2 linked regions of the Homo sapiens genome follow. The main gene of each other region encodes a partner of the protein of the gene in region 2 in a complex. Each region holds a gene or a part of one and is shown on either strand. Other genes may lie near its edges.

The links.
Region 1: the proteins of MIS18BP1 (region 2) and PLK1 are in contact, whole or in part, in a crystal structure (PDB 8S31), measured with the Homo sapiens proteins. Residues at the interface, in NP_060823.3 of Homo sapiens: Asn73, Ile74, Phe75, Gln76, Ser77, Thr78, Met79, Leu80; in NP_005021.2 of Homo sapiens: Lys413, Trp414, Val415, Asp416, Tyr417, Asp419, Tyr485, Ser487, Glu488, His489, Leu490, Leu491, Arg516, Phe534, His538, Lys540.

What each region holds. Positions count from the first base shown.
Region 1 is NC_000016.10:23,672,449-23,682,944, forward strand, and holds the start of PLK1 (serine/threonine-protein kinase PLK1), read left to right. Parts: upstream 1-6,440; 5' UTR 6,441-6,484; coding exon 6,485-6,892; intron 6,893-7,635; coding exon 7,636-7,804; intron 7,805-8,465; coding exon 8,466-8,610; intron 8,611-9,615; coding exon 9,616-9,709; intron 9,710-10,496. UniProt on the Homo sapiens protein: Serine/threonine-protein kinase that performs several important functions throughout M phase of the cell cycle, including the regulation of centrosome maturation and spindle assembly, the removal of cohesins from chromosome arms, the inactivation of anaphase-promoting complex/cyclosome (APC/C) inhibitors, and the regulation of mitotic exit and cytokinesis.
Region 2 is NC_000014.9:45,220,607-45,231,064, forward strand, and holds part of MIS18BP1 (mis18-binding protein 1), read right to left. Parts: intron 7,209-10,458; coding exon 7,057-7,208; intron 6,231-7,056; coding exon 6,137-6,230; intron 4,141-6,136; coding exon 3,312-4,140; intron 1-3,311. UniProt on the Homo sapiens protein: Required for recruitment of CENPA to centromeres and normal chromosome segregation during mitosis.

The sequences.
Region 1 (10,496 bases), on a different chromosome or scaffold from region 2:
ATTTGAACCCGGAGTTTTTAGTCTATTGAGTTTAACCGACAGATCATACTGTGTTTTGGTAGGGAGGGAGGGAGGAAGCAAGCAAGTGAACAAATGAGTCTGGGATTTAGGACTTGCCAGACAAACAAGGCCCAAGAGGCAAGTGTGCAGGTGGGTGTAGTTGGGAGTCAGCAGAGTTGGGTTGGAATTCAAGCTTTGCCACCTGCTGGCTATAAACCTTGGTTGGGTAAGTAACCCAAGGTAAATGAGATCATCTCTGTAAAACTCTTAGCCTTGTGCCTGGCACATAGTAAATGCTTAATAAGGGTTCACTGTTAGTATTACTGTTACTGATAACATACAAATAGATTGTATTAATGGACCATAATTGCAACTGTATAAAACAAATTCCATGTTTGGCCAGGCGCAGTGGCTCAAGCCTGTAATCCCATCACTTCGGGAGGCCGAGGTGGGCAGATCACGAGGTCAGGAGATCAAGACCATCCTGGCTAACACAGTGAAACCCCATCTCTACTAAAAATACAAAAAAATTAGCCAGGCATGGTGGCGGGTGCCTGTATTCCCAGCTACTTGGGAGGCTGAGGCAGGAGAATGGCGCGAACCCAGGGGGCGGAGCTTGCAGTGAGCTGTAATTGTGCCACTGCACTCCAGCCTGGGCGACAGAGCGAGACTCCGTCTCAAAAAAAAAAAAAAAAACCACAACAACAACAACAAAAATTCCATGTTGACAAGGATGGGAATATGAGAACATGGAAACAGCTATGAAAAGACATAAGAGAATTAGGAGGATTTTCTTTAATATATCATTTTTTAAAAAAAAACTTGCTTGTATTTGTTTATTTTTTAAATAGAGACAGGGTTTTACCATGTTGCCCAGACTAGTCTTGAACTCCTGGGCTCAAGCGATCTTGGCCTCCCTAAGTGCTGGGATTACAGTCATGAGCCACTGTGCCCCGCCATTTTTTAATAAACCTTTCTAATGGAACAAGTAAAACACATGCAGTGGATGCTCAGCAGGCCTTGAGTGTGTGAATGAAAAATATTTGAACTTGTTTTTACTGGTTGATTTCATTGCTTAAAAAACATACCTTAGCTGGACGCAGTGGCGTGCGCCTGTAGTCCCAGCTACTCATCTCTTAAAAAAAAAGTTTTATGCTTGTTAATTTCATAAATGCTAGAGGGATCACCCTAATCAAATAAAGCTACTCAAAAATAAAATATGAAAGGTGTTAGTGGGATACAGCTTTCTAGTTTTTTGCCACTAGTGGATAGGTTGGAATTTAAATTCTTCGGATATTGGAACCAGAACAGGCTGTAACTGATTATTTTTGCTGTGATTCGTGCTTACTGGAGCCTCGGGAAAGAGGGAGACAACATGTAAAGAGAAGCAATCTGTTTGGAAAATGAAAATACAGTTAAATTGCTAATGAACCCTTGTCAAAATCAAATGTCTCCCCTTAGAGGCTGATGATTGTCTAGTCTAATATGCATTTTTTTTGAGTGGGTCAATTGGACTCTAAGACCAACAAGATAAAAAGGCAGCCTTGCATGTCACTTGGACCACAGCTGTCTGGCCATGCAGCATGCCTTCACTGCTGCTGAAGAAAAGCAGCTGCTTGTTGAGAATCTCAAATTCTCAGATCCTAATTGCCTGGCCCTGACTCTAAGCTGAAACCTGCTACTGTCTGCCTTGAGCTGTTTTAGCCTCAACACGAGCTATGCTGAACTGAAAGCAGGCACAGGCTCAATGACCAGGACTCAGACGTTGGGGCCGTTGGAGATTAAGGACCCCCTCCGTGGAGCGCTAAACTATGAAAACGTCCTGGAACCTGGCTGAAAAGGGCTTATTCTCTAATGGGACCATCTAAGATCAAGCTGCTGATAGGCTCTTTGTCTCTAATACAGAGGCTAATTGCATTCCTAACTTCTAATATTTGCCAAACGCTCCAAGCTGGGGAAGGGCACATCGCAAGGACTATGACCTCTCCTCCTGCTTTTGACAGACCAGACTCAAACCTTCTCTGGGGCTTCTCTCACTGCTGTTGACTTGTTGCATTCAGCTTTTGGGATTAGTTGCAGCTTGCAACAGTGGACTGACAGCCTGACTCTACTTCCCTCACTTTTCTCCCAGCACACACAGCTTAGTAAGGTAGGTGGATTATTAAAACGTAGCTGTCCCCAGAAAGGTATTAGGCTTTTCTAGTCTGCTCATTGAATAATCAGGACAAAAGGGGTAGAAGATTATGTAAACACATTTTGAAATTTTTAAAAATTCAGGGTTTCATCCTTTATTAGTTTGCTAAGGATACCATAACAAAGTACCACAAACTGAGTGACTTACACAATAGAAACTTATTTTCCTGCAGTTCTGGAGGCTGAAAGTCCAGGACAAGGTGTCGACAGCTTTAGATTCTTCTGAGGCCTCTCTGCTTGGCTTGCAGATGGCTGCCTTCTTACTGTGTCCTTGTATGGTCCCTCTGTCTGGGTGTCTGTGTCCTAATCTTCTCTTTTAATAAGGATACCACTCAGGTTGGATTAGGGCCCATCCTAACAATCCCATTTTAACTTAGTTACCTCTTCAGGGCCTATCTTCAAATATACTCACATTTTGAGGTACAGGTAGATGGTTAGGGCTTCAGCATGAATTTTTGTGGGGACATAATTCAACCCTCCACACATAATTACCAATTTCTGAATGTCTTTCTGGTTAAGTTGCATAAAAACGTTTATCTACTTGAACTCTAGGATGATAGTTAAAAAAAAAAATGTTGGCCAGGCGCAGTGATGGATGCATATGATCCCAGCACTTTGGGAGGCCGAGGTGGGCAGATTGCTTGAGTTCAGGAGTTCAAGACCAGCCTGGCAACATGGTGAAATCCTGTGTCTACAAAAAATGCAAAAATTAGCTGGACATGATGGCATGTGCCTTTGGTTCCAGCTACTTAGGAGGCTGAGGTAGGAGGATGGCTTGAGCCCAGGAGGCGGAGGTTGCAGTGAGCCAAAATCGTGCCACCGCACTCTAGCCTGGGCAACAGAGCCAGACCATATCTCAAAAAAAAAAAAAAAAAAGTTTATCTACAAAAATGCTTTTGTGCCTCTTACATACAACCCTTCCAGAGGAAAGGCCTAGCTGAGAGTAAGAGATGGTTGAAAAAATGCAATGTTATGATTGCTGAACAGGGCACGACTGTTTTTGTAATATTGGAGAAAATAATTAAAGCCTGGCACCTGGGGAGGCTTGATCCCTGGAAGCCTCCTCTTGCTGAAGGAAAATTCCCAGTGCTGCCTTTCCATGTGCTGTGAGTGCTTTGAGTTCAGACTGACAACAGAGTGGGTCTAGCTTCTATGCTTTCCATGAAGATCTCCCACAAATGTCATCCATGCTCATGAGATGGATCAACTTGTATCCTGAACAAGCAAAACTGTTTGGGACTCACTGCCTTCAGGCAGTCCCTTGGAAGCCAAGGACTCTGGGAACTTTTCAGATGGGACTGGAAACACTTGGGCAGGAGTTCCCCTGGTAGGAGGTCTGTTCACCTGTACAGCCTAATGGATGTCCTGCTTGAGGTGCCCTAATATTGCAAATTCTTTGTTTACAGGGGTACCACCTGTGCCCCTGGGACTGTGCTTCTGTACATGACCACAACTCTCATGATGTCCCCTCAGCCCTGGAAAGCATTTGGGTTAGCTTCCGCTTACTGGTCAGAGTTATACTGTGCCTGAATTGATGCCTCAGGTCAGGTTGAAAAAAAAAAAAAAGGTTCAGACAGCAATTAAGGGCTGGGCACGGTGGCTCATGCCTGTAATCCCGGCACTTTGGGAGGCTGAGGTGGGCAGATCACCTGAGGTCAGGAGTTTGAGACCAGCCTGACCGACATGGTGAAAAGTAAAAATACAAAAATAAAAAAATTAGCTGGGTGTGGTGGTGTGCACCTGTAGTCCCTACAAAAATAAAAAAATTAGCTGGGTGTGGTGGTGTGCACCTGTAGTCCCAGCTACTCGGGAGGCTGAGGCAGGAGAATCGCTTGAACCCAGGAGGTGGAGGCTGCAGTGAGCCAAGATCACGCCACTGCACTCCAGCCTGGGTGACAGAGCAAGACTCCATCTCAACAACAACAACAAAAAGGAATTAAGGAGGAAGCCACCTGGCTTCCTAAGATAGACTTTATGGTTAATGGGATTTATTTTAGCTGGTTAAGTCCAGGACCCCTACCAGGAAGAACTGAGGTCCATATTTGAGGTTGGTCTCACCCTTTTGCATGTGGTCCTACTAATAATAATTTTGCTGTAAAGAAGCCTCAATAAGGAGATGGACTGTGTGAAAAGAGATGAGAAAGCAGGCCTGTTTGCAAGGCTGGCCCTTGGCTGGCATCTGAAAGCTTGGATTTCAGGAGGGTTCTCATTACTCCCTAAATGATAAGAGTGGCTCACTGTGCCTAAACTGTTCGTACAAACAATGTGGGTTATGCCCAACATCTGCTTTCCTTCTGGGAGTCAGATTTTCATATGTGTTAGGCAGAGGATGAGGTGAGCAGCTCCCAATGAGAACCCTGAACACTGAGTCTGTAATGAGCTTCCCTTGTATACAACATTGCACATGGGTTGTCACAACTGATTGCTGGAGGAATTGTGTCCTATGTGACTCTGCTGGGAGAGGACTGTGGGAGGCTTACACCTGGTTTCCCTGGACTTTGTCCATGCGCTTTTTTCCTTTGCTGATTTTGCTTCCTAGCCTTTCGCTGTAGTAAAACATAGCCATGAGTATGACTACAGGCTGAGTCTGTGAATCTCCTAGTACATCATCAGACTAGGAGGTGGTGGTGTTGGCACCCCCCAGCACAGGGCACAAGGGAGACTTGCAGGGTGTTTGTCATGTTCCCTTTCTCAATCTGGGTGTGGTTTACAGATTTGTTCAGTTTGTGAAAATTCACTGAGCTCTATGAACAATTATAATATGTACATTTTTTTCTGTAAGTGTATTAAATTTCAATAAAAAGAATTCACACTATAGGGGTACAAAATAACTTAATTTTTCAAAGTCTTCCTTTTATTCAGCCAACATTTTAGTAAGTACCCTTTTTTTTTTACCAAGCACTGCTCTGGGAGCTTGGGACATGGGGTAGAAAGGACGGCATCATTGTCCTCATTGTCCTTCAGCTTAGCTGCAAGGCAGGTGAAGGATGCTTATAGTATGGTTGATTTTTGCTGGGCTCTATGAAGGATCAGAGGGTGCTAAGGAGGCACAGAGAAAGAGCTTTTAACGTGGGTATTTTACTGTTCCAGGGTTGCCACTCAAGTACCTACAGAACAAACGGGTGTAGCTGTAAACTGTGGCAAACTGAAAGCATGTAGGCACAGAGTAAGTAGCTAGAGCTGATTTTTTTCAGGAAAGGCCACAAATCCCAACTTTTATGAGCTCCTCTTTTAAATGCTGTAAATGTTTTACAATGGCGGGGCGCGGTGGCTCACGCCTGTAATCCCAGCATTTGGGAGGCCGAGGGGCAGATCACTTGAGGTCAGGAGTTCAAGACCAGCCTGGCCAACATGGTGAAACCTCTTCTCTACTAAAATTACAAAAATTAGCCGGGCATGGTGGTGCATGCTTGTAATTCCAGCTGCTAGGGAGGCCGAGGCGGGAGGATTGCTTGAACCCGGGAAGCAGAGGTTGCAGTGAGCTGAGATCGTGCCACTGCACTCCAGCCTGGGCGACAGAGCAAGATTCCGTCACACACACAAAAAAAAGGCGTGGGGGGAGGCCAAACAAAACCCCGCAAGACACATTTGGCTATGACCTGCCAGTTTGCTAGGCATTCTTCCAACCTTCCCTCCCTCTGACCAAGAAACTGAGTGTCCACTATTTTAGGCCCTGGGAAATTCAGTAGCGAGGAGGCCAGACAGCTTCGTTGCATCATGGGGGGCTCTGGTACTGTGCTTCTCCAACTTCAGGATGTGTAGGAATCACCTGAGCAGTCTTGTTGAGAGGCGGACACTGACTCGGGAGGTCTGGGGTAGGGCCTGAACGTTTGCCTTTGCGGTTCTAACAAGCTCTCAGGTGATGGCGATGCTACTGTTCCCTGGCCCCGAGGTAGAGGAAGATTTAAGTAAAAGCTTCCTGGAGGAGGCGCAAGTGAACCGCAGGAGCTTTCCCGGACGCCCGAGAAAGGGAGAAACCCCGAAGGAATTCCTCCTCTCTCGGGGCTGGGTCTCCGCATCCACGCCGGGTTTGGTTTCCCAGGCTATCCCACGTGTTCGGGCGTCCGTGTCAATCAGGTTTTCCCCGGCTGGGTCCGGGTTTAAAGGCTGCTGCTGCGCAGGGCGCTCCCATGGTGCCGCGCGGCGGGCGGGTTTGGATTTTAAATCCCCGCGGCCAATCAGTGGCGCGCAGGCTTTTGTAACGTTCCCAGCGCCGCGTTTGAATTCGGGGAGGAGCGGAGCGGTGCGGAGGCTCTGCTCGGATCGAGGTCTGCAGCGCAGCTTCGGGAGCATGAGTGCTGCAGTGACTGCAGGGAAGCTGGCACGGGCACCGGCCGACCCTGGGAAAGCCGGGGTCCCCGGAGTTGCAGCTCCCGGAGCTCCGGCGGCGGCTCCACCGGCGAAAGAGATCCCGGAGGTCCTAGTGGACCCACGCAGCCGGCGGCGCTATGTGCGGGGCCGCTTTTTGGGCAAGGGCGGCTTTGCCAAGTGCTTCGAGATCTCGGACGCGGACACCAAGGAGGTGTTCGCGGGCAAGATTGTGCCTAAGTCTCTGCTGCTCAAGCCGCACCAGAGGGAGAAGATGTCCATGGAAATATCCATTCACCGCAGCCTCGCCCACCAGCACGTCGTAGGATTCCACGGCTTTTTCGAGGACAACGACTTCGTGTTCGTGGTGTTGGAGCTCTGCCGCCGGAGGGTGAGTGTCGCTGCTGGGGAACTGGAACTGCCTGCGGGGCAGTTGGAGCGCCCAGACCTGGAGCTGCTGGAAAGAGTACCCAGCAAGGGAGAGCCTGGGACTTGGAGCTGCTAGAGAAGGGTGCTGGGAGCCTCCCGCTTACGTATGGAAAGTGTCTTTGGTAAGGGCTTCTTGGCTCTGGGAGCTGCTAGAGGAGGGGGTTCCAGTGAAGTGGAGTCTGAGTCATGTTGCTGATAGGGAAGTCAGCTTCTGGACGCGAGGTGCTGGGGGGAGGGGTGCTGGTAATGGACGCTAGGGCCCTGGAGTACCCAGGGAGGAGTCCCAGGTTAGTGATGCCGCGCCCTGGGAGCTTCTGGGGTGGAGCTGGGTCAGTGGGGGGGTAGTTGGAGCCAGACTTCGGGCCTTCCGGGGGAGATACGAGTCAGGAAAGGGATCTGGTGCTGGGGACTCGGAGCTTCCGGAGTGGGGCTGAGAGAGGACCCCCAGGTAAGGGGGGAAGCTAGTAGGAGAAGGGGTGCTGCGAATGGTTGTGGACAGTGTTAAGGCAGGGTCCAGATGCCGCTGTGCTGGAGAAGGAATGGGGTGGGGGCATAGGGAAGGAGAGAAACCCACCAAGACCCCTCTTTCATCCCTTGGGAGTCCAGAGTCCAGTCCTGTGCTTCCTTTGCCTGGTAACCCTCTCCCTTCCCCACCGGCCTCAATCCACCTCCCCATCCCTCCTGCCCTCTCCTTCCCACCCACAGTCTCTCCTGGAGCTGCACAAGAGGAGGAAAGCCCTGACTGAGCCTGAGGCCCGATACTACCTACGGCAAATTGTGCTTGGCTGCCAGTACCTGCACCGAAACCGAGTTATTCATCGAGACCTCAAGCTGGGCAACCTTTTCCTGAATGAAGATCTGGAGGTGAAAATAGGTGAGTTGCTGAGCCTGCAGGGGTGCTTGACATCACTACAAGAGGCTGGAATTTGGAGGAGGCTGGGAGAAAGGAAGGAGACAACCCACAAGTCAGTATCTTGCCTACAGATGCATTATTTTTTTGTGCCCCAATGCAATATTTTTTTTTTACAAAGAATTTGAATTTGTTTTTATTTTTTAAATTGGAAGGTTTGATTGAACAAAAAGTTTGATTCAGAACTCCTTTTAAACAGGTGAAAGCTTCAGTAATACGAGGACAGCATTTTCTTAGGGCAGCCCTTTGCTGGGCTGGAAAACAGCTGTCCCCTTCAGACTTCTTTGCCACAGTCTCTACTCCTCCCTATTCTTCACAGACTTGCCAAGTCTTGGAGGTTAACTTGCTTGATCCTTGAAGGCATTGGAGTTTTACTATCCCTGTCAGTTCCTGTTTCAAAGCATAGCCCCTTTCTAAAAGGAGGGGTGAGAAGTGTCACTGGAGGCACCTCCCTGGTGTCAGCATGGGAGGAAGATTCCTGGGCAAGCCTTGCTACATACAAGGAGCAGAGGCTTGTGGGATCAGATGGCCCTGGTTCTGGATGGTCAAACCTTAACTAGCCTTCTGCATTGACAGATGTCAGAGGCTGGCATCTAAGTACCAACTCTTCCTCCCTCTGTCCCAGGGGATTTTGGACTGGCAACCAAAGTCGAATATGACGGGGAGAGGAAGAAGACCCTGTGTGGGACTCCTAATTACATAGCTCCCGAGGTGCTGAGCAAGAAAGGGCACAGTTTCGAGGTGGATGTGTGGTCCATTGGGTGTATCATGTAAGTTGGGAGTTGTCTCTGGACCAACCTGGTCTCAGCAGGGGCAACTTTGGGACATCCTACCTGGCTGACCTTTTCTGTGGACCTTTCGGCCTGCTTTACAGAAAGCCTACTCCAAGGGACAAGTCATCCCCAAACAAAGCCTAATTGTCATATCTTTCCCTGTCACTGGTGTATCCTGTCGGATTTCTGCAGCCTAGGTCATGGGTACAGCGGAGGAGGAGGAGGGAGAGTCTCCACAACCTTACTGTAGTCCTTTGCTAGAGTTGTCCACAGGGCAGCATCACCATCATCTGGGAACTTGTATACACAATCTCAGGACCCAGACTACTTACTGGATCAGAATCTGGATTTTTAACAAGGTCCCTTGGTGATTCCCTTGCACAATAAGGTCTTAAACACCGATGAGCATTAGCATGGTGGGGGAAATTAGGCCAGGAGTTACAGATGGAAAGATGATGTGCCAGTGGTCTGTCTGGATTAAGACCATCAGCAGCGGTTGGTGGCAGGCAGAGGCTTGGGCCTTTTCAGGTGTTATCTTTCTTGTTTTGGGCCTAGGTACTGGAGAGTTAGAAATGAGTTGTAGCAATGGCTTTCATACGTCTTTGCAGTGGGGTTTTTTCAAATGAAAACTTGAAGACTTAAGTACAGAACTGCTAAAGGTGGAGCTGCTTCTGTAAGCGCAGGTAGCCCTTTGACCTGTTTTGCATGACAGGCAGCATCTGAGGCCCTTGCACAGAGTCCTAGATGACCACAGGCTATAGCTAAAAAATCACTGGCCCTTAAGAATCCTGGTCTCACCATGTGTATTCTGCTGAGGGCTTATTCTAGCCAATGTCATGGCTTCTGGGGCTGCTCAGTGGACTTAGGGATTGTCTTCAGGGGCCCCAGAGTTAGAGTGAGTGTCCAGAGGATGCCTGACCTTTGTTCTGACCCTGAGATGATTTCTCTCATGTCTGGGTTGTGGCTGGGAGACTGGTGCCAAATCCTACCTTGTGCTTACAGGTATACCTTGTTAGTGGGCAAACCACCTTTTGAGACTTCTTGCCTAAAAGAGACCTACCTCCGGATCAAGAAGAATGAATACAGTATTCCCAAGGTGACTAATGATGCTTTAAGTTTACATTTATTTTGTTTTCCCCAGAAGCTGTTTATGGAGCCCAGCAATATCCTAGGACCAGAAATAGGTCTATCCCACCTCTAAGGTAGCCACAGAGCTTGAGAGGGCCTGTGTCTGAAATTGCATACAGAACTTGACATGTATGTGCACATAAGCATTTTTTCTAGGGGGAGAGAGTTGGCAGATTCTCAAGAGATTGGGTAACCCAAAAGTTGTGTAAAAAGCAAAAAACAAAGGAGGTAGGAAGGAGTAGGAGGCAAAAGTGCTTAATCTTTAGAAATGGTTTATCTTAATTCAAATGGATTCTGCCACTTAGCGAGATCACATTGGGCAAATGGCCTGCATCTTTTTTTTTTTTTTTTTTATTTGAGGTGGAGTTTTGCTCTTGTTGCCCAGTGCAGTGGCATGATCTTGACTCACTGCAACCTCCACCTCCCAGGTTCAAGCGATTCTCCTGCCTCAGCCTCCCAAGTAGCTGGGATTACAGGCACCCACCACCTCGCCTGGCTTTTTTTTTTTTTTTTTGTATTTTTAGTAGAGACGGGGTTTCACCATGTTGGCCAGGCTGGTCTCGAACTCCTGACCTCAGGTGATCCACCCGCCTTGGCCTCCCAAAGTGCTGGGATTACAGGCGTGAGCCACCATACCCAGCCTGGCCTGCATCTTCTGAACCATAGTTTCCATATATAAAGTGGAGTTCCTGCCTTGGAGCACCTCACAGAGTGCCTTGCATGTGGTGAGTGCTCTCAGAATTATGAATCACTGT
Region 2 (10,458 bases):
GTTGGCTTTTTTCACTCAATATGCCTTTGAAATTCAACCAGGTTGTTGTATGTATCAATAGTTCTTCCTTTTTACTGCTTAGTAATCCACTGAAAGAATGCACCCTAATTTGTTTATGTAGAAAGTACGACAGAAATCAGGGAGAGGGAGGAGCTTGGCATAGCAACCCTTTAAAGTTGTTTATGAACTCCTAGGCCCATGCTGCAAATTTTGATATATTTTCATTTTTGTTCAGTTAAGAATATCTGGCCGGGCTGGTGGCTCACACCTGTAATCCTAGCATTTTGGGAGGCCAAGGCAGGTGAATCACTTGAGGTCAGGAGTTCGAGACCAGCCTGGCCAACATGGTGAAACCTTAACTCCACTAAAAATACAAAAACTAGCTGGATATGGTGGCACACACCTGTAATCCCAGCTACTTGGGAGGCTGAGGCAGGAGAATTGCTTAAACCCAGGAGGCGGAGGTTGCAGTGAGCTGAGATCGTACCACTGCACTCTAGCCTGGGTGACAGAGTGAGACTCTGTCTCCAAAAAGAAAAAAAATAAAAGAAGCCGGGCGCGGTGGCTCAAGCCTGTAATCCCAGCACTTTGGGAGGCCAAGGCGGGAGGATCACGAGGTCAGGAGATCGAGACCATCCTGGCTAACACGGTGAAACCCCGTCTCTACTGAAAATACAAAAAATTAGCCGGCGTGGTCGCGGGCGCCTGTAGTCCCAGCTACTCGGGAGGCTGAGGCAGGAGAATGGTGTGAACCTGGGAGGTGGAGCTTGCAGTGAGCAGAGATCGCGCCACTTCACTCCAGCCTGGGCGACAGAGCAAGACTCCGTCTCAAAAATAAATAAATAAAATAAAATAAAATAAAAGAATATTTTCTACTTTCCTTTAAGTCTTCTTCTTTGACCCACAGATTAGTTATACGTATTAATAAGTTATTTAATTTTCAACCACTTGGAAATTTTCCTATCTTTATTTTATTGATTTGTAGTTTAATTCAATTATCATCAGAGAATATGCTTTGTATGATTTCAGCTATTTTAAATCTGTTAAGAGGTTTTATGATCTATCTTGATGAATGATCAACCTATCCTTGGAAATAACCTATTCTTTTTCTTATTATTGGGTGGAATGTTCTGTAAATGTGAATCATACGAATGACTGATGGTGTTGTTCAGTTCTATATCCCTGCTAATTTTCAGTCAGTTCTATCAAATACCAAGAGAGGAGCAGTGTGGTTTCCTATAACTGTGGATTTGACTATCCTTGTAGTTTAGTCCGCTGCTTTCACTTGTCAGTTTTTAACTCATGTATTTTGAGGTTTTATTGTCAGGTGCATACACACTTAGGAATTTCATGCCTTCCTGGTGACTGACCCTTCTATCATTTGTAATGTCTTTCTTTATTCCTGGTTATTTTCTTCCTACTAAAGTCTATTTTGACAGATATTAATATAGCCACTCAAGCTTTCTTTTGATTTGTGTTTAGACGGTATTTTTCTATCCTTTTAACCTACCTATATCATTATATTTAAAGTGAGTTTGTTGTATACAGCATATAGTTAGATCATGTTTTTAAATTCATTCTGACAATATGTCTTTTAATTGGTATGTTTAGACCATTTAATTTAATTATGTTGGATTTAGGTCAATAATTTTATTATTTGTTTTCTGCTTGTTCCATGTAAAAAAATCCTCCACTTCTCTTCTTCTTTGCCTTCTTTTGGGCTATTTGATTTTCCAGTATTTTAATTTATGTTTGAAATTATTTCTTTGTATAGTTTTTTTAGAAGTTGCTCTAGGGATGACATTAAATATACTTAACTTCAACAGTCTACTTAGAATCAATATTTTACTGCTTCAAGTGAAATGTTAATATTTTTATTTTAGCAGGTCATCAACCTGGTGGTATCCCAAGCTATACGTTCAGTCTACTATCATTGTTGTTTCAATGTCAGTTTCATTTTTCAAAGCTCTGCAGTGCTGTTAGGATCTTCCTGTGTGTGGGACACTGAGTAGCTAGCCTAGAAACTGGGTGTGGTCTACTGTTTAGTTCAGTTCTCAGTCTTTTATATGCTCTTTAGGACCATGTCCACATATGTACAACTCCTGGGTGGCATAGAAGTTCATAAACAACTTTATGGGGTTGCTTTTCCTACTTCCTCTCTTTCCGCGATTTCTGGTTCCCTGGAGTTTCCCTTGTCAGTGCTCTGGCCAGAAAGCTGGGGCTTTTATTACTCTGCTCTGCTGTATGCCTCACACAACTGAATTTTTGTCCAGTACCAAGCAACAGACAACAGAAAGAGAACAGAAGCAACAGGTACTTGCCCCACTACTTTGAGGCAACCATTCCTAATTGTAGAGAAGGTTCTCATCTCTCAGAGTTTTAGATATATCTCAGCCCCAGCTGATGCTGTGACTGTAGCCCCTGCAGGATTGCATGGGGACTGAGTTAAGAGAAAAGACAAAAACAAAACAAAACAAAACAAAACAAAACAAAAACAAACCAAACCAAACACTGGGGATTTCCTCTACTGTTTCTGAGTGTCAGAAGTCCCCCTTTCTGCTCCTCAACCCAGAACTGGAGAGCTCCTCTTTAAACTCTCTTTGTTACCCTTCAGTGCCCACTTCTAGGTTTCTAGTATCCTTGAGTCTCACTTGTGGGGCACCAAACTTTACTATTTATAACACTTGTTAGGCCGGGCACGGTGGCTTATGCCTATAATCCCAGCACTTTGGGAAGCCAAGGTGGGCGGATCATTAGGTCAGGAGTTCAAGACCAGCCTGACCAACATGGTGAAACCTCATCTCTACTAAAAATATAAAAATTAGCCAGGCGTGGCAGCGTGCGCCTGTAGTCCCAGCTACTCAGGAGGCTGAGGCAGGAGAATCGCTTGAACCCGGGAGGCAGAGGTTGCAGTAACCGGGATTGTGGCATTGCACTCCAGACGGGGCAGCAGGGCGAGACTCCGTCTCAATCAAAACAAAACAAAACAAAAAACAAAAAAATGCATTTCTTAAAATATGAAGCTACGTGAGAGAGTACTATTTGGCTATCTTGAAATATTACATGGGAATGAAAAGGTCACTTTTACTTTCCTCATACTTAGGCTTTCCTCGTACTTTCCTCGTATTAGAGATGACCACAAAAATACCACTAGGAGTTATGTGTAGTCTATCTCCATTCCCTGTGCAAATTATAATTTCTCCCTTTTTTTTAATGACATCTTCCATGTTAACCCCTTATTGCTATTTTTATGTCTTTAACTGTCTTGTGGCTGCTCTGTAGATATTTCGGAATGAAATCTAACTACTTACCAATGAAGTTTCTGTAACTCCTTCTCATTCCATTCCTTATCCTGAATTAAACCAGGTAAGCATTCTAAGGGATGCCTATTTGTCTTATCAGATCCTACTGCCTCAGTAATTGGAAACTCTTTCCTAACACCAGACTTCTGAAGAGTTTCTTTGACGGAAGGTCTAGCTTTCTTTTGTTTGATATAAAATTCATTTTCACTTTCTTCAGTTTCAGGTTCCAAAATCACTGGAATATTACTTGTGTTTCTTGTGCTCTTTCTCAGGTGAACCACTGCTTCTTTGGTGTTTCCTGCTTTGGTTTTCTTAACTTCAGCTTTCCTTTTAATTTCCTTTTCTGTTTCACTTTCTTCACTTGACAAATCTGGTGAGGACTGATGCTTATAAAATGACATAGCTACCTGATTTTCTATTTTCTTCAATTTTGGTAATAGTCTGGTATTTTTCTTAAAGTCAGAGGTGAGCATTTGTTCCTTTTCAAGGTTAGATATTTTTATTTTCCGGTTGACAGTAAGTAAGTCACGTTCATCGCAATCTTCCTTGTTTTTACTTTTATGACCTTCAAATGTATTTTCTAAAGTCCCCATGGACTTGCTGATGGGACTTTTTTTTTGACACTCTGGTATTACAAAATCTGTTACTGCTTTGATGGTGCCAGCGGACAGATTATACCTCATGCATCTTTGCTCTATCACTTTTCTAGATTTAAGTGGTGTTACTAAAATATAAGCTTTCTTCTGATTGATGGCCATGTATTTTCTTTCTTCATCTGAGAAAAACTGTTCCCTTGAGGTTAGAATATCAATGGATACATCCAATTCTTCAGTTGTCTCTTTAATTTCATAAGACAAAACCAAAGACCAAAATCTCAAATTAGCTATAAACAAATATAAGCACAGAAAATATATTTTCACAAATAAAAGATACTATTTTTATCCACGAGCTACACTGTATACCCACCTGTCATATTAATCTTTCTGAAGCCCAGGTCTATTCAGACCACTGCCCCTTCAACTGTAAACATATACTATTGTTTATACAAACCTGACAGTGACTTCTCACAGTCTTTTAGTAGACATATAAATAAGCTCCTCTGCCTGGCCTTCCACATAGTTCCAATCTCTCACTGTTGTCAAAATCTCAACTATATTCTATGTTCAGAACCACACCACTTGCTATTTCTCAGATTTTCTTGGTTCTCCACTTTTAATAATGTTGTCCACTCTGCTTTGAAGATGTTCTTCATTCATCTATAAACAAAATCACTACCTGCTTCGATTTTATTCTCTAACCCACCTAGTGTACAAACTTGTACACATTCCCTACACTGAATGAAAGCTCTCCTTCAAGTTTCCAGAATACTTTAAATAATGCCATGTTTGACAGTGAGACATGTATTATAATTGCACACTTGTCTTTCAATCAGACTGGAAAAAATAATTAATGGTTAGAACTTTATCTGTATGGTTTGATTTTTTTTTTTGCTGGAGTTAGTACAGAGCCTTTCACATATACAGTAGGCAATAAGTAAATACTTGTTAAATCAAAGCCCTGGAGGTAAAATATTCAGAAGATATAAGAAAACCAGTAGTCACTGAAACCTTACTAAGTATTATATGAGCTGTGCTAGTTAGGAGGACATGGAACTCCATCTGCATGGTTCCACTTTCATTGCCAATGGTGGTCATAGAAACACACTCAAAATGAATCCCCCCAAACACCATGAAGTACAAAACAAGCAAAAGAGAACAACCTGAGAATCTTATATCTTGTCACTAAAGAAAGCAAATTAAAATGAGAACAATTCACCAATTCAAAACCTAAGTAATGAGAAGTCAAACTAACTGAAACTATCCAACTGTAATTAGAAATACATATAAACTGCAAATCATCCCACTGTCATAGAAACATATTACAACCACCTCCACATATTATGTGCCATTGTTTACAAGATGACTGACAGAATGAGACTGATAGATAATATTGAATGCTGGGGAGAAAAGAAGCCTCTAAATTACAATCCGTGGAAAAAGGTAATAATCAAAATAATTTAGAAAGTGTCTACAAGATTTTCCACTGGCATCATATATCTTCAAATTATGAGAAAAGTATTTTCTTCTAACTCCTCATATAAATCCAATTCAAATGTTTACCTGGGAATTTGAAAATTTTCAACATTATAATTTTGAACAATATTTCCATTCAGAGTATTTGTTAATTTTAATAAATTATTTAATAAAGATCCAGCTATCTTGGATACTTAAACCGAATATGAACTCGGAAGTATAAGTAGCACTGCTTTCCTATCTTCTTCAAACAAATAAATGTTCTTCACTTTCACTTCTTTTCACTTATAAGAGGAAATAAAACACAAAAAAATGCTATAAAGCTAATGGATTTAGCTCAACATGAAATTGTAAACTTGCTAACATTTAGACGAAAGCCTCTAAATTATGGCATGCAGGATTCCAATTAAATCACTCTGAAAATCCACACTTAAAACTAAATTATTGTACTAAATTCATAAAAGGATTCACTCTTTACACATTCCTGTAAGCATATGTTAAATGATATATAGTTTTGTGATCTAAACAAATATTTTAGTACCCAGATTAAAGAAGGCAAACCTGTAAGTATAGGTGGTTTTTAAAAGGGCTATTTTATTATGAAAATCATCTTATGTAAAAATAACAAAACCAAACATTTAAAAACATTAAATAATTTGCCATTTTACATGAGGAAATTTACAAGATCACTTTTATCATATTAAAAACATTTCACATAGTAGCTTTCTGCTTATGATTAAAAAACCATTAAAGATATATTACCTTGCTTCTGACTTTTTATTATCCTTTCATTTGTTCTTTCACCAATTTTTAGTTTCTTTGAAGACATTTTATATTCTTTTTTTCCAATTAATTCCTTCAAAACAAAAAGATACCTAGGTTTTATTTTAAAACTACTACCAAAACATGATCTGAAGCATTTTCATAGTATGCATCAAGCATACAAATTTCTAGGTACTTACAGTTCCGCAAATTTCATTAGTGGACACATTCCGAAACTTACTTGCCAGACCTTGAGCACTACGAGCAACATCTGGGAATCCATTATCCTACATATTTTCTACATTAATTTAATACTTTGTGGTTTTTCAAGTGCTTTTAAAAATATGCTTTATTTAAGCTTTACTCTAAAAGCTAAAACTTTTATTGTTGCCTGCATTTTTTCATTGAGAGACAGGGAAAATAAATATCAAGACATTCAGTCCCCAAGTAAATGAAAAGCTGATACTTGAAAAACAGAACTCTTGGCTGGGCGCAGTGGCTCACGACTGTAATCCCAGCACTTTGGGAGGCAGAGGTGGGTGAATCACAAGGTCAGGAGTTCGAGACCAGCCTGGCCAATATGGTGAAACCCCGTTACTACTAAAAATACAAAAATTAGCCAGGCGTGGTGGTGCATGCCTGTAGTCCCAGCTACTCGGGAAGCTGAGGCAGGAGAATCACTCGAACCCAGGAGGTGGAGGTTGAGGCAGGAGAATCACTTGAACCCAGGAGGCAGAGGGTGCAATAAGCCGAGATCACGCCACTGCACTCCAGCCTGGGCAATAGAGGGAGACTCCATCTCAAAAGAAAAAAAAAAAAAAAACAGAACTCACGTCCCTGATATGGTCCCAAACCTTTTCAGTAGTAAATCACCCTTCTAAATATCAACTTGAACTATACAGTGTACAATAAAGCCTTACCTGATTAGATAAGTCATCTCCTCCTCCATTTTGAATAGTATTATTTACTTGGTCATCTGGGAACCTTAATGTTGGTTTATTTTGGCAATTACTGTGGCACATGTTTAATTCTGTAGCTCCTGGTGACTCACTGTGCTTATTACTCTTCAGTTCTATGAATACAAAGATGGAGATTTCAATAAATGGTTATATAAAAGAGAAGCTGCTTTTCTACATGAAGAATTAACTTTGACGCTAGGTGTGGTGGCTCACGCCTGTAATCCCAGCACTCTGGGAGGCCGAGGGAGGAGGATTGCTTGAGCCCAGGAGTTCAAGACTAGCCTAGGCAAAATAGTGATACACTGATTCTACAAAGAATAAAAGGTTGGTGCAAGCCTATGGTCCCAGATACTTGGGAGCCTGAGGTGGGAGGATCACTTGAGCCAGGGAGGTCGAGGCTGCAGTGAGCCGTGATTGTGCCACTGTACTCCAGCCTGGGTGACAGAGCAACACCCTGTCTCAGAAATAATAATGATAATCTGTCTAATCCCTCTGTCATAAATATTTGTTATAATTTGACTAGGATATAAAGCAATTTTATTTGGAAAGAATCACTCTGTATAGCGCTACGCTACATTTTGTTTGAATCACTTTTTTTCCTTCAAAAAAAATTTAAAAAGCCTAGACAGCCATATTATTCACGACCATCTGTTTTGGATCTCCTTTGTCACATCTAAAGACAGAATAGTAAGGTTAATCCATTTTGTAAATAAAAATTCCTGTTCATCCTAACTGCACATCAACTAAATAGAAAGCTAATAACTGTTCTTCTTCTATTTCTTCATGTATGTAGAATTATGTTTCAACTAGTTTATGTACTCCAATGTATAACTAAATTTCTGTAATTAAAATTTTGAGCAAAACTAAATTATACAGTATATAATATATGCTCAACAAACAGTTACTAAGCTGGAATTCTAGGTAAGTTAAAACAGATTCATAAAAAGTATAAAAACATTTTGTTATTTTTCTAGAAGCTATTCTTTAAAGATGTACTGACTAGTCCTTGCTCTTGAAAATATTACCATATAATGAAGGAAGCTTCTATTATGATAGGTCATTTATCATATACTCTGGTAAGTGTAATAACAGAGATAAAGTGCTTTAAGAGCAATACTATGATACACAAGTACTTTTTAGGCAAATCATTAAAACACATACATAAAATTACATTATCTTAAATTAACATGGGTTGGTACCTTTACATAACCTTAGCTATATAATGTTAGATGTGGTTTTGTTTTTTTCATGCAAAGTGCAATGATAATAATAAAATTAATAACAGCCCCAACCACCACTCAAAATAACTTACGTGATATGAAGATAGTGTCTAACAGTTTCATTAAGAAAAGATCTAATGAATTACACTAGAAAAATGATGCAATCATAACAGAATATATTAATATTTGCCCCTAAACCAAGATCCCTGGGGGTGGGGGTGGGGGGAATCATGCCTTATTCATCTCTAAGTTCCTAAAACTTAATAGACCAGGGTTCATGGAAAGCACTTTAAAAATGTTGACACCAGGTGCCATGTTTCATGTCTATAATCCCAGCACTTTGGGAGGCCAAGGTGGGAGGACTGCTTGAGGCCAGGAGTAGGAGACCAGCCTGGCAACATAGTAGGATCCCATCTCTACAAGAAATAAAAAACAAGCCAAGTGCAGTACTGTATGCCTGTAGTCCCAGCTACTTTGGAGGCTGAGGTGGGAGGATTGCTTGAACCAAGGAGGTTGAGGCTGCAGTGAGCCATGATTGCACCACTATATTCCAGCCTGGGAGACAGAGCAAGACCCTGTCTCAAAAAAAAAAAAAAAATTGCTGAGTGATTTTCCTATGGACACAGCTGGTATGTAAAATAGTTTACCAAACTTTAGTCTTTTAAATTTGTATTCATTTCTCTTGTCAATAGCTTTCTTAAACACTTTACTGATAATATTTGCAATTAAGATCAAATCCCTAATAAGTGCTGGCTCTAAGTGAAATGGGGTACAGGAAGAGGTAAGAACCAAGACTAAAGACCAACAAATGATTAAAAGTGAGATATACTGTCAAGGATTTTCTTGTTTTAGGAGTAAAAAAGTAGAGAGCAGGTGCCGAAGCCCCAAGGTTCCAGCATACTCAAGATGCTCCAGCAATAAAAATAGGCAATATGCCTAATTTAGAGAAAATAGGATGACTTTTGATAAAAAGAGGAAGGGTTGAGAAGGAACTAGGGCAATGGTAAGTGACTTTTTGCTAGCTCTGGGGAAGCAGTCATCTACATATTTAACGTATTCCTTTCTCTGCATTAGAAAGGATAAGCAAAGTTTCAAGGGTGGAAGTTCAAATGCGGGTTGGGGAGTGGTTAGAATAGGATACAGGTACATTTATATCCAGTATGGTGCTATGTTTTTGGCAGAAGGATTCCTGAACTCTTTCAAGTTTTGGAAGTTCTGTAAAGCTCTTAGTTACAAGTTTAAGGCAAAATCAGCAGAAATGTTTACAACATATTTTAGTAACTTTTACTCATCTATATTGTTTAGAAAGAGCTGTAAGTTAATGTTCATACATTTTTATACAAGTGAAGCAGATTATAGTGTTGGCAAAGAGCTGATACAGAACAGTTCTGCTCTGGCAAGTTGGTCTCCTTATTAAAAAAGAGAGAGGAAAAAAAGAACAGTTCTGCAATCTGTCGTTACAGCAATGGTCATTCAAGAAAAGCATTTTCTTGAATTCCATTTCTTCCATGAAAGGAAACAGATTTTGCCTATCCGTAGGAATGAAATTTAGTACAAAAATAATATATGTCTTTACAACAGGTTTGCGGTAGGTTGGCAGCTTAAATACTTTGGGTCAAGGAAATTAAAAGAACAATCATCTTTCATTAATTTGTTTACCAGTGTTCTTTGGTATTCTGATTAATAAAAAGGTAATTATTATTATTATTATTTTTTGAGACAGTGCCTCACTCTGATGCCCAAACTGGAGTGTTGTAGCACAAACATGGTTCATTACAGCCTCAACCATCTGAGCTCAAGCGATCCTCCCACCTTAGCCTCTCAAGAAGATGGGAACACAAGCATGCACTACCATGTGTGGCTAATTTTTTTGACTTTTAGTAGAGACAGGGTCTCGTCATGTTATCCAGGCTGGTCTCAAACTCTTGAGCTCAAGCGATCCTTGCGCTTCAGCCTCCCAAAGTGCTGGGATTACAGGCATAAGTCACTGGGCCCAGGCAAAGGTGGTATTTGATGAAGCAAGCTGAATCCTGACCATGATTAATCTGTATTATAGTTACTTCTCATATAGTAGTGAAGAAGCAGGAATGTGGGGGCAGTATAAGTCAAAGAATACTATACTATACACATTACTACTATACAC